Regions from separate parts of the Homo sapiens genome. Here region 2 is linked to region 1. Evidence: fine-mapped expression QTL. Tissue or cell type: whole blood. Region 1 holds a variant in brackets; the other region holds the start of a gene. All regions are shown on one strand. Distances are from middle to middle.

Region 1 (2,688 bases):
CTGTAGATTGAAAATATTCAGGAAAACATGAATTTTAAAAATACAGTATAACAACTATTTATATAGCATTTGTATTGTATTAGGTATTATAAGTAATCTAGAGATTATTTAAAGTATATGGGAGGCCACAGGTAACATTGTACTGAACAGGGAAAAATTGAAGGCCTTTCCTCTAAGATCTGAAATAAGACAAGGATGCCTACTTTCACCACTGTTATTCAATATATTATTAGATACCCTAGCTAGAGCAATTAGGCAAAAACAAAACAAAAAAAAAAGCACATCCAGATTGGAAAGGAAGAGGTCAAATTAGCCTTTTTTGCAGATGATATGACCTTATACTTAGAAAAACCTAAAGAATCCACCAAAAAACTGTTAGAACTGATAAATGAATTCAGTAAAGTTGCAGGAGACAAAATCAACAGGCAAAAATCAGTAGCATTTATATATGCCAACAGCAAACAATCTGGAAAAGAAATCAAGAAAGCAATCCCAGTCAGCCATGGTGGCTCATGCCTGTAATCCTTGCACTTTGGGAGGCCAAGGTGAGTGGATCACTTGAGGCCAGGAGTTTGAGACCAGTCTTGCCAACATGGCGAAATCCCTTCTCTACTAAAAATACAAAAATTAGCCAGCCATGGTGGTGCACGCCTGTAATCCCAGCTACTCGGGTGGCTGAGGCATGTGAATCACTTGAACTTGGGAGGCGGAGGTTGCAGTGAGCTGAGATCGCACCCCTGCACTCCAGCCTAGGTGACAGAGCGAGACTGTGTTTCAAAAATAGATAGATAGATAGATAGATAGATAGATAGATAGATAGATAGATAGCAATCCCATTTATAATAGCTACAAAGAATTTAAAATACTTAGGAATCAATTTAACCAAAGAAATGAAAGATTTATAAAACACTGTGAAAGAAATTGAAGAGGACACTAAAAAAAGGAAAGATATTTCGTGCTCATGGATTAGAAGAATTAATATCATTAAAATGACAGTACTACACAAAGCAATCTACAGATTAAATGCAATCCCTATCAAAATACCAATGACATTCTTCACAAAAATGGGAAAAAAAATTTAATATGTATGTAACCACAAAAACTCCTAACTAGCCAAAGCAATCTTGATTAAAAAGAGGAAAACTGGGTCGAGTGTGGTGGCTTA[T/C]GCCTGTAATCCCAGCACTTTGGGAAGCCAAGATGAGTGGATCACCTGAGGTCAGGAGTTCGAGACCATCCTGGCCAACATGGTGAAACCCCGTCTCTACTAAAAATACAAAAATTAGCTGGGCGTGATGGCGGGGGCCTGTAATCCCAGCTACTTGGGAGACTGAGGCAGAGAATTGCTTGAACCCGGGAGGTGGAAGTTACAGTGAGCCGAGATCGCGCCACTGCACTCCAGCCTGGGTGACAGAGCGAGACTCCGTCTCAAAAAAAAAAAAAACCAAAAAACAAAAAAACACACAAAACAAAGCTGGAAGCATCACACTACCTGTTTAATGAGCATGATACTGGCATAAAAACAGACACACAGACCACCAATGAAACAATTAGAAACCCAGGTATAAAGCCAGGCATTTAGGGGCAACTTGTCTTTGACAAAGGCACCAAGAACATATGATGGAGAAAGGACAATCTCTCTAATAAATGGTGCTGGGAAAACTGGATATCTATATGCAGAAAAATAAAACTAGACTCCTATCTCTCATCATACAAAAATCAAATCAAAATGGATTAAAGACTTAATTCTAAGATCTGAAACTATGAAACTACTAGAGCAAAACTTGTGGAAATGCTTCAGGACATGGATCTAGCCAAGGCTTTTTTTGTGTAAGTCCTGAAGAGTACAGGCAACCAAGGCAAAAATAGACAAATGGGATTACAGCAAGTAAAAGGCTTCTGTTCAGCAAAGGAAGCAATCAACAGAGTGAAGAGACAATCCACAGAATGAGAGAAAACATTTGCAAACTACCCATCTAACAAGGGATTAATAACCAGAATATATAAGGGACTCAAACAATTAAATAGCAGGAAAACAAATAACTCAACTTAAAAGTGGGCAAAAGATCTGAATAGACGTTTCTCAAAAGAAGACATACAAATGGCCAACAGATATAAAAAAAAATACTCAGCATCCCTAAACATCAGAGAATTGTAAATCAAAGCTATAGTGAGATGTCATCTCACCTTTGCTGAAATAGCTTTTATCAAAAAGACAGGTAGTAACAGATTCTGGCAAGGATGCAGAGAAAGGGGGAACTCCCATACACTGTTAGCAATGTAAGTTAGTACAGCCACTGTGGAGAACAGTATGGAGGTATCTCAAAAAGCTAAAAATAGAACTACCATATGATCCAGCAACCCACGTATCTACAAGAAAGAAAATCAATATATCAAAAAGACATCTGTACTCCCATGTTTATTGGAGCACTGTTCATAAAAAACAAAACATAGAATCAATGTAAGTACCCGTCAACAGATGAATAGATTAAGAATGTGGTATATGTACACAAGGGAATATTATTCAGCTTTTAGAGGTATGAAATTCTGTCATTTGTGGCAACATAGATGGAACTGGAGGACATTATGTTAAGTGAAATAAGCCAAGAACAGAAAGACAAATATCACATTCTCACTCGTGTGGGAGCAAAAAAAAAAAAGTGAATCTCATGAAGATAGAGAGTGCATTGG
Region 2 (2,688 bases), 77 kb before region 1:
TACTTTAGATGGCAAAATGCTTAGGGGAAAAAGAAGCAAAGAAGAAGTATATAGTGCATGCAGGAAATTGCAATTTTATTTATGTTTGTATTGATACATATTTGTACATATTTATGGGGTGTGGTAGTTTGATATATGCATACAATGTGTAATGATCAAATCAGGGTGTTTAGGATATCTATCACCTCAAACATTTATCATTTTTGTGTTTGGAACATTTCTAATCTCCTAGTTATTTTGAAATATATAACATATTGTTAACTATAGTCACCCTACTGTGCTATCAAACACTTGAACTTATTCCTTCTATCTACGTTTGTACCCATTAACCAATCTCTTCCCTCCCTCCCCCAACTCCACCTTCCCAGCCTCTGGTACTTATCTCTACTCCATGAGATCAACTTTTTAAGCTCCCACATGAGTGAGACCATGGGATATTTGTCTTTCTGTGCCAGACTTATTTCACTTAGAATAATGACCTCCAGTTCCGTAAGATGGGCAGCCAGGAAAGGCCTTACTTAGCTGATGTTTGAATTGTGAAGTTATGTAATCATTAAGATGAGTATACATACAATGGGCCAGCTGAGTGCACAGCAAGATTCAATAAATTCAAACTAACATTACTCTTATTGCCAAGAGAGTGCCTGAAATGACAGCTCATTGGAAACTGGCTACTTTCCTTCCCTTTCCTTAGGGGTTTAAGGAAAGCATGAGTGATTTCAGTCTTTTGCTGGAGCTCCTCACTGACACTCATTGCAGAGCCTGAGCCCTCAACTCTCAATCTTTGCTTAGGTCCTGGCTTAGGCTCCACTTTGTAAGAGGCACCTTCCTAGTATTCACTACTCTCTCTCTCACAATCATGTCCTTACAGACATTGCTGATCCTCTTTCATACTGACACCGGGTTCTAGTCCGAGTTCCATCACTAAGTCGCTGTTTGACTTTGGGCAAGTTACTTCTGTGGTTAATTATTTTTCATCAACAAAATCAAAAGGTGAAACTAGACGAACAACTAAGAGGCTCCAGTATTTTTTCAATCTAAGAGTCCCATATCCCCCACTCCCTTCTCACAGCTCATTCAACAATCCTAATGGCAGCGGGTGCCCGCAGTCTCAAGTCTCTGCCGAAGCCCAAGCCGCTGTCTCGGTCAGTCACAACCGACGAAGAGGAGGAATTGGAGGAAGCCAGCATAACCACTTCACACTGAGAACATCTGACCTTTCCCAGAACGCCCGCCCACTCGACACTTCCTGTCCCTCCCCAGATCTTGTTCCGGGGCACCTACTCGCGTCTAATCACTCCCCTCATTCACTCTTTAGGGTCCATTGGCTGTTTCTTTGAGGAAGCGGAGCATCTTCTGTCGTTGATTGGTTTCCGTCATTGTTGATAGGTTGGTAACAAACAAGGTGTGCCTGGTCTCCCTGGTAACGTCCTGCCGATAGTCCTGATTGGTCGGTGTCTTAATCCCATCTTCCGTCCCAACTGCTAGTGGCTGAGTCCCTGGCGGGGCGCGGCGGTGGAAGGTGTCGCGTACGGGCTTCCCGAGCTGACGTGGCTTGAATTGGGAGGGGGGCAGCTGGAGCCTCAGGCGGCAGCGCTTCTAGGTGAGTAGGGGACGCTACCCAACTCTTCCCTCTGCGAGTCCAATAACGGTCACCCCCGCCAGAGGGGCCGCGGGAGCTGCCCAAGCAGCTACACCGGAGTCCCCTCCTCGCCCCGCCTCTCCCGGATTCAGTCCTGGATCCGGCCCTTCACCCGCCTCCTTCACCTACCAGGCCTAGTTCTAGTAGCCCACAAGCCTCGGCCTCTCCGGTGGGCCTTCGGGGTCACCCTGCGCAGACTTGGACCACTTGCTCACGGTCTGTCCCCTCCCCGGTACGTTTCTCCTCTGGGAGCGACGGGGAAAAGCGCCTAGGTCAGTCCTGTCCGCACGGCCTTGTTCCTGGAGCGGCCTGCCTAAGTCGGCCTCCGTACGCAGCCGCTGACGTCGGAAAGAACCTGCTGGGCCCCTGTGCTCAGGCCCTAAACAAACTTGGTGTCCCGAAGGGGAGGCGCGACCAAAAGAAATCAAAGGTCTTTAGGGCGGAGATCACAGAATCATTGGAGATATTAATGCAAACGGAGGCCTGTCCAATAATCCTGCTAATGCTAATGGGTTACTGGAAAGATGAGAAGAGAGGAAAGATCCCAACGATCCCGTCAACACGAAAATCCCAGGAATCAGAGGTGGGCAGGCTGTTAGAGAAAAAGGAACCTCTAAGAGAGTTCTCGAGGAAAAATAACTTGGTTTGATGGTGTGGAGTATGTTTAATCTGCACAACCGGAATGTGAAAGGGAGGGTGAGTCCTTTGAGGAATGAGGAATATATTTGTCTGACTTATTTAAAGAGCTCCAGTTGGTCTATGGGGAGCGGACAGTTTGAGAGTGGGACAGGGATATTTACAATCATGGGTAAGTACTTTCACTTTTGGAGATAGTTGGAAGCTGTCTGAGCATTTAAAGGACCTTTTTACAGTTCTGTGCAAGATGCAAGCAAGTGGAGGGCTCTTTACATAAGGGCCAGAGGCCTTTCCAAAAGCGTGAATTGATAAGATTTAGATGGTCAGAATGGTTATGAAGGGGCAAACTCAGGAAATATCCTATTGGAAAAATGGCAGGATTTGGTTTTGGAATAGATGCAGGAAAAAGT

Evidence for each region. PIP is the estimated chance that this variant, and not a neighbour inherited with it, causes the effect.
Region 2: GOLGB1 starts here. The variant in region 1 is fine-mapped to the expression of GOLGB1 in whole blood (TOPMed, PIP 0.97).

The regions. Positions count from the first base shown.
Region 1 is chr3:121,671,827-121,674,514 of GRCh38, reverse strand. All of the region lies in intron 17 of GOLGB1 (golgin B1), which reads left to right. Among named protein-coding and RNA genes, the nearest start is that of HCLS1, 12 kb to the right of the region's middle. The variant T/C (reference allele first, on the strand shown) is at 1,166.
Region 2 is chr3:121,748,547-121,751,234 of GRCh38, reverse strand. It overlaps GOLGB1 (golgin B1), which reads left to right and starts at 1,494. Exons shown (of 22, transcript NM_001366282.2): 1 at 1,494-1,603. RefSeq lists enhancers at 1,527-1,766, 1,787-1,836.